2 linked regions of the Homo sapiens genome follow. The protein of the gene in region 2 interacts with the protein of the main gene of each other region in a pairwise test. Each region holds a gene or a part of one and is shown on either strand. Other genes may lie near its edges.

What was found. The genes of interacting proteins can lie anywhere in the genome.
Region 1: the proteins of NECAB1 (region 2) and CPNE8 interact in binary tests that used the Homo sapiens proteins (3 or more experiments, as listed by UniProt).

Annotation. Positions count from the first base shown.
Region 1 is NC_000012.12:38,903,471-38,907,220, forward strand, and holds the start of CPNE8 (copine-8), read right to left. Parts: upstream 2,122-3,750; 5' UTR 2,065-2,121; coding exon 1,967-2,064; intron 1-1,966. UniProt on the Homo sapiens protein: Probable calcium-dependent phospholipid-binding protein that may play a role in calcium-mediated intracellular processes.
Region 2 is NC_000008.11:90,794,759-90,798,508, reverse strand, and holds part of NECAB1 (N-terminal EF-hand calcium-binding protein 1), read right to left. Parts: intron 1-3,750.

The sequences.
Region 1 (3,750 bases), on a different chromosome or scaffold from region 2:
CCAGCACACTCACAGAAAACATGCATCAAAAAAGGGGCTGCATTAAACATGGGCCCTACTGGCAGAATGACCAGTTTAGGTATAATTTCCCTTAAAAAGCTCATGGAAAAATTCAGACTTGATTGACAATATTCTTTTATATTCATTCCAAGTATAGGCCACATGCCATTCAGACTTTGCAGACTGTTGAGCAGAGGATAAGAACTCTAGTAATGCTGTTATTGTAGGACTTCCGGCTATCCATTATCTGTATATACCAGTAACTTCCCTCTAACATCGAAAGCAAGCTTCAGAGAAAAGAAAAAGGCCTAGGAATCCTCTAAAGAGTTTTCCAAACAGCTTCACCTGTTCCATTGACAGAAAAATCTCAGGCAGCACTTAAAGCAGTGACAGCAATGAGGCAAGAGCTTAATGATAGCTATCATTATCAGCATGATTATTTCCATAGTCCCAGATCAGTCTTAAGAGGCGGCAAACAATCAGGTGATATAGTTTCAGGGCTAGATAAAGGCTGTCCCCTACCCTCAAATAATACTTCTACTACGGTTGCTGGTGCTCGAATTTTCACCCCCAGAAAAGAATTCCTTTGGCTTTAGGCTCAGTTTGTGAAAATGCAAAGTCAAGATTGATGGAATTTTAAACTTATTTACATCAAGATCACCCAAATTTGTTAGATATCTTCAAGGCAAGTTTGCTAAGGAAAGGAAAGGGAGGATGTGAGGGCATAAAAACAATCTTAGGGCAAAAATGGATAAATGAGGAGCCAGTTTTCCAGTGAGACAGACCCAATTATGCAAACAAGGGAGTGGGCTCCAGGGTCAATATTAATTCGCAAATTAGTGGCCAGTACCAATTTAGCACCATCGCTCATCTCCTTCTCAAAATCATCTATGATATAGCGGTGATGCTGCTTTATTTACAGGGCAACTAACCGAAAGGTCAGGACAACGAGTTTGCAATTTACAGTCTCTGGACAGGGTTGAAAGTCAGTTTTTTTTTGTTTTTTTTTTTTTTTTGAGATGGAGTCTTGCGCTGTCGCCCAGGCTGGAGTGCAATGGCAAGATCTCAGCTCATTGCAACATCCACATCCCGGGTTCAAGCGATTCTCCTGTCTCAGTCTCCCGAGTAGCTGGGACTACAGGCGCGTGCCACCACGTCCGGCTAATTTTTGCATTTTTAGTAGAGACGGAGTTTCACCATATTGGCCAGGCTGGTCTCGAACTCCTGACCTCGTGATCCACCCGCCTTGGCCTCCCAAAGTGCTGGGAATACAGGCGTATAAACTGTACTGAGCCACTGCGCCCGGCCGAGAGTCAGTTTTTACAAGCACTCAGATGTGGGCCCGAAAACAAATCAAAACAAAAGTCGTGACTTCCCAGATCTTAGGTAAGGCATAGATTCGTCTGCAAGGAGGGCCGAAATCTCTACCTATCAGGCAAAAGGCAAAAAGCCCGGAAGGGTCGGGGAGAAGCAAGCTGGAAGGCTCCAGGAAGTGGGTGGGGAGGAAGCTGCCGGGGTTGGAGCCAACCCTAGCAACAGCAGGTTTGCACACGCCTAGCAGAGGAAGTCCCGGGCCTAAGCGTGCAGCGGTCACAAGAGCTTTTGGCAGTGCTGTCCCCTTCGATTCCGGTCATCACCCAACCATCCAGCCCGGGTTTGGGGCGGAAAACCGGCTTGTAAAGTGGGCGGCGGCCGGTGTTCCCACAGCTGAGTCACAGCCCAGCCAACTTTTACAGCGTTTCCCAGAAAGAAAATACAAAGTCTCAGTCCCGGAGCCCACCGCTTCTAATTCCCGCTCCCCTGTGTCACCTGACCCGGGGTAACTCCAGCCCCACTACTGAGATATTTCCCACTCATGGCGCAACTTCTTGCCTGCGCAAAGCCTCGTGGTACCCCGAGCGCTCTCCAAGTGCTACCAACCCCACAGATGAGAGGGCAGGAGAGAGGGGAAGGGCTGCGTCCTCACCTGCAGGACACGGACACCTCCACCCGCGTGGCCGGGATGGCAGCGCTCAGCTGGTTCAAGTCCCCGATGCCCGCAGTGCTGTTGTAGCGGCTGTCCATATTGGGAGGAGGCGCCTTGGACTTGTCCGGCGCCCACAACCACAGCTCGGGCGGACTGAGGGCTAGCTCCCGTCAGGCGGGGATGGGGGTTGAGGGTGGAGGCAGAAGAAGGAGGCGGAGGCAGCGCGCGGGATGGGGGAGGGAAGGGAGGAGGCGGACCTCCGCGCAGAGCCACGAGGGAACCGCTAGCCAGTCCTGGGTGAAACTGACGCTGCCAGGCAAGTGGCGCGCGGGGATCCCGGTTTCCCAGCCCCCTTCCGGCAGGCAGCAGCCCGGGCGGGGGACACACTCCGTGATCCCCTCCTGGCTGGAGGGGTCAGGCTTGGTGGACCCAGCAAGCAGCCTGATGGAGAAGGTGGCACCAGACGCAGACCCCTACCGTCCAGGACCGCAAGCCCTCGCCGGCTCTGCGTGCTTTTAGGTTTTGTCTCCACCTCTGCACACCCACACTCGCCTCCTGGGCCGCGACAGCTTCCTTCTGTCAATCAGGTGTGGACGGGAAGGTCTCGAAGTTTCCTCGCCTGAGTTGAAAGCTGGAGGTGGGGGCACCTCTGCCCGTTCCTAACTGCCCCGTTATAAGGTCCCCCTCCCCACAATTGGTTCTCACCTCGCCCTCGGAGCTCTTGGGAGATCCCTCCGTCCCTCCTACTGTGCCCTCGGGCAGATGAGTCTGGTCCCAGCTTCTGGACTGCCCACTGTCGGCCACTTGAGAGTTGGGGACGGTGGGGCATTGTGACGCTCTCCAACCTTGGAACACGGTGGCAAAGTGGCCGATCAATATATGGGACAAGTGGGGGCGGGGGGGCGGACTCTAAGGTGGAAAAAACAATACTACTTGGGATTTAAGGAAGCAATCTGGATTCTGTCTCCCCTTGGTTCTTCGGAGCTTAGAGGTCTAACGGCGACATTCCTCCTACAGTAAGGGCTCTTCTGGGTCCCTCGTTTCCAAAGGCATGAAAGTTCTGACCTGAAAATGGGGGCCGGGGAGGGTGATGTCACAACCATATAACGCAGCTCCTTCAGCCGACTCCCACCCGCAAGAACTGAGACCTGACGGATAAAAGCAGAGAGGAGTCAGAGTGAGCGCTGCGTTTGGGAAACTGCATTCCAGGGCAGCAAGACTGGTGCCAAGACGGAGTCGTGGCAAAAGCATCCGGAGGTAGACGAGGCGCCCCTCCACTGCAGGGACCTTTGTTCCCCGCGCCTTCCCTCCTGCCTCACCCGAGCGCCTGCGGGTCCCGGGAGCTCGCCACCAGGCGGCGACGGAGAACAGGATGCGGCGCAGCTGGAAGGCAGAGGGTGGAGAGGGGGCGGGTGTCCGTCCGATTTAACGCTCCAAGCACGGAGTTTCCAGCTGGTTGGGCTAAGTCTGGGAGGAGCAGTTTTTGCGGTGGAGGACTTGCCTTGCGTTGTAACATTTTAATCCACTTGCAGCCTCCTGCCTAGAGAATCTATAGAGGCGGGTGAGAGTGTGTAGGTGCAGTCTTGCCGATTCCCCTGCCGAGTGTACTTCCCCTGTTTCTTCTTGCTTTCCTTTCCTGATTTCCCCACCCACCGCTTTTTCTTCTTTTTTTTTCCTTCCTCTTGTCCTATTACAAATTAAACTGTAGTTTACTGCGATTTGGAAATGCCCTAAAACCCCAGGCATTTCTATTATGCTGCTCAAAGTTAATTTGGCATAGAGAT
Region 2 (3,750 bases):
TACACATGAACATAAAGATGGCAGCAACATACACTGGGGACTAATAGAGGGAAGAGGGAGGTTGGGGAGAAGAGTTGAAACACTAACTGTTGAGTATTATGCTCACTACCTGGGTGATGGAATCATTTGTACCCCAAATCTCGCCATCATGTGATACACCCACGTAACAAACCTGCACATATTCCTCCTGAATCTAAAATAAAACTTTAAGTTATAAAAAGAAAAGAAATAGGGTTTGCTGATGTAATCCCATTAAGATAAAATATAACTGGATTGGGTGGTCCCTAAGTCCAATGACTGGGCATCTTACAAGGAGAGAAATTCAGAGATGCAGAGATAGAGGATAGAGACCACATGATCAAAGAGTCAGGTATTGGCGTGGTGCAGCTGAAAGCCAAGGATGCCAAAGTACTGACAGGTGCCATCAGAAGCAAGAGAGGAAGTATGATACAGTTCCCCCTCTGGAGCCTTCCCAGGGAGCATCATCCTGCTAGCAGCTTGATTTCGCCCTTCTCACCTCCAGAACTGTGGAGGGTACATTCTATTGTGATAGTTTGTTAGAGCAGCCCTAGGAAACTAATACAATATATAACCTGGAAAGAACCAACACCCAGGAAAGTAGTTTTCAGAGACTTAGGGAAACTGGGTCCAGATAGCACTCCTTGAGTCTCTGATTAAGTAATCTTGATGAGATGATCTCTGCTTTTTCATTACAGGAGCCAATACATTATTTTTTAAAACAATCTTAAAACAGTTTGCATTATTTTTCCTGCTAGCTGCAATGAAGTTAACCCTGATAGATATGCTAATAGAAAATAATCTGGATAACATACTACAGAGCTATGTTATATACAGTACCAAAGAGGATGCCCCACTAGCACATTGCAAAGACAAACTTTAATTGCTTGGAAGGGGCCCTTGAGGATGACTTTTTTTCCCTAAGTAACTTGTAGTTATAGTTAAATAACCAGAGCTACTCTTATATTTAGATCGTCACTTCTTGCTGGCCAGCTTGAAACATGAGCAATCATTTTTATTCCCAAGTTGTCTGTTTTACTGCTTTCTACTATAAAAACATTATCCTCCTTTCATTCTGCCAACTTCACGGAAATGAGGTATAGATAAATCTAATCATTGCCACAATGTGTTTTAAGATACTAGTATTACTATTAAAGATCTCACCAATGAAACTGTTCCAGCAACAGGTAGGTATCACCTAGACTCGCATGCAGAAGAAGATGGTCCTCCTTTTTTACTAAATTGATGTAATTACTGCAGGAGGACTGCTTTCAATAGTAAGAGTTATGCTTAAAGCAAAATGAGACCCAGATTATTTTTCCTCCAGAGTTAATTGCTAGAGGGGATTTTGAGGATTCATTCCCTTATCACAACCAGCTTCTTCCTGTCCTCTGCAACCATGGAGCCCCAGCTGAGAGTCAGGGAGACATGAAACGCATCCTATTTCTTACTTTTGGTTCATTCTAAGATTCTATTTCAAGCTGTATTTTGTCCTCAGGATTTTGAAGTAACTAGAATAGAATAATCACACACCACAGAGTTGGACCCAGGACTTCTGTTCATTTCATTTCATAAAGAACAATCTCAAGTAGCATTTAGCCTCTGAAAGATGAAATAAAAACAGCAGCTTTTGTTATTAAGACAGTTCTTATAATTAAATATGAACAGAACTGTCTCTGCTGCAAATTTTGCCTCTGATCCCACAGACTAATAAAAAATGTACTCCGGATGAGAATCAAGTTCATTACGTTATGGTACCAGAATAATCTGTGTCAGCCGATCTTAAGGTTGCTACCACTGGATAGATGGTAAATAAATTTAAATATTATGGTCAGGCTTAAAATTTGAAGACAGGCAATACTGTGTTTTCGCTACAATTCAAAGATTATCAAATAGATTCCTTTATTTCAAAAATATTCTTTGATGGCCTCAACTAAAATTCCTTATTCATCACTTTAAGTTATTGAAGGCAGGTGTTAAAATGTAAATGTTATCTTTGAAACATTAAAAGATGGACACAATCATAATTTACTGAACTAATATTTCTAAGTGCCTCCTACCATGAATCAGGTTAAGATTTGATAATGAGGTGAAATAGTCCCTTGGTAGATTCCTGAGAAACTAGAATATAAGACAGGGACTCAGGACTAATCCAGAACATGGAGTCCCACCACACAGGGTCGGCAGGAGTCTCTCCCATTAGAATGCCTGGTGTTGCCCAGGTGTCGCAATCATTAGACTGCCTGGGGTCAGATGGGAGTCTCTCCCATTACCAGGGTGGGTGGGCCCAGACTTCCAGCAGGTAGTTTTACTACCAGGCCACTGGTTGCCCTGAAACTGGATAAGGGGAAGCAGGCACTGAAAGATGGATGGAGAGAAGGAATCAGTGCACATATTTTCATCTTCTCAATTTTGCCTAGGGTAGGCCCAGTGTGGGAAAACAATTTTTAATGTATGATAACAGTAAGACTAAGTGTATTTTTAAATACTTTTTTAAAAATTTTTTAAGTTCCGGGGTACATGTACAGGATGTGCAGGGTTGTTACATAGGTAAACGTGTGCTATGGTGGTTTGCTGCACCTATCAATCCATCACCTAGGTATTAAGCCCAGCATGCATTAAATTTTTTTTTCCTAATTTCTGCTGTTTCCTATAACTACAAGAGTGACATTTGCCTTGCCAATGAGGGTAGACAATGATGGGGTTAACTGCCATCCTCTGAACTGGACAATCTCACTCAAATGAGCAAGTGTGTGTGTGTGTGTGTGTGTGTGTGTGTGTGAGAGAGATGAGGTGAGATGGGAGGTGTGTGGCTATAACAGAGTTCAGTCACAGAACCATTGCATCTGGAAGACTCATTCGGCTTCGACATTCCTCTGTGCATCTCACACATCATACAAATGAGCATATATGGGGCTTCAGAATTAAGTGTCCTTGTGAAAAGAAACTATTTCTTGTTTTCACCAAGTTCCTGACCATCTATGCTCTGTATCTTGCATTCAGAGTGTACATGAGTGTGCATGCTTAGACGAAGGAAGGAAGGGAAGACAAGCAGTAAAGTCATTCATCCCCCTCACAACTTTCCAGCCTCTTTCCCTCTTTAGCAGTGAAGTGGGGAACAGTCACTTCCCTTCCAGTTAAAAATCAAAGGAAAACTGATGGGAAAGGAAAGTGGCATTGGGTGGATGAAGTTGCTACTAATTTCGTTTGGGAATTTCTCTTGCTTTTGGGGATGAGTTGAAGGTTTGTTTTTCTCCCTTTTCACAGTAGCGGAGTTGATTAATGTAATGACTCAAAAGAGGAGACACATGCTACATAGACTAGTATTCCAAACTAGAGTTCCTCTTCTGTTAACTGGATTGCAGCAACTGGGGAAATGATAGTCCATTGGTGTAAAAGGAAAAGCAATAGTAATCCCTGTGGTCCTATGTGTTGCCAGGACCCAGTTGAGTCCCTCTCCTGTGGCTGGCAGGCATGCCATATGCAAATGCTTGCTCCAGCCTCAATGCACTGGCATACCTTGGCACCAGTGCTAGGTTTTCTAAGCCTCCCATCAGTATTCAAGAGTATTTATGATGAACCGATACTTAATTCTGTCATATTCTAGCAAGACAATTCTATAAATTAGATTCATGAAGAAATAGTCCCTGCATCAGTTTGTGGATTTAGCTACTGTTACTGTTATTTAATACACTCAGTGTGCAGCACTGAAATAACCATAATACTTCAAAT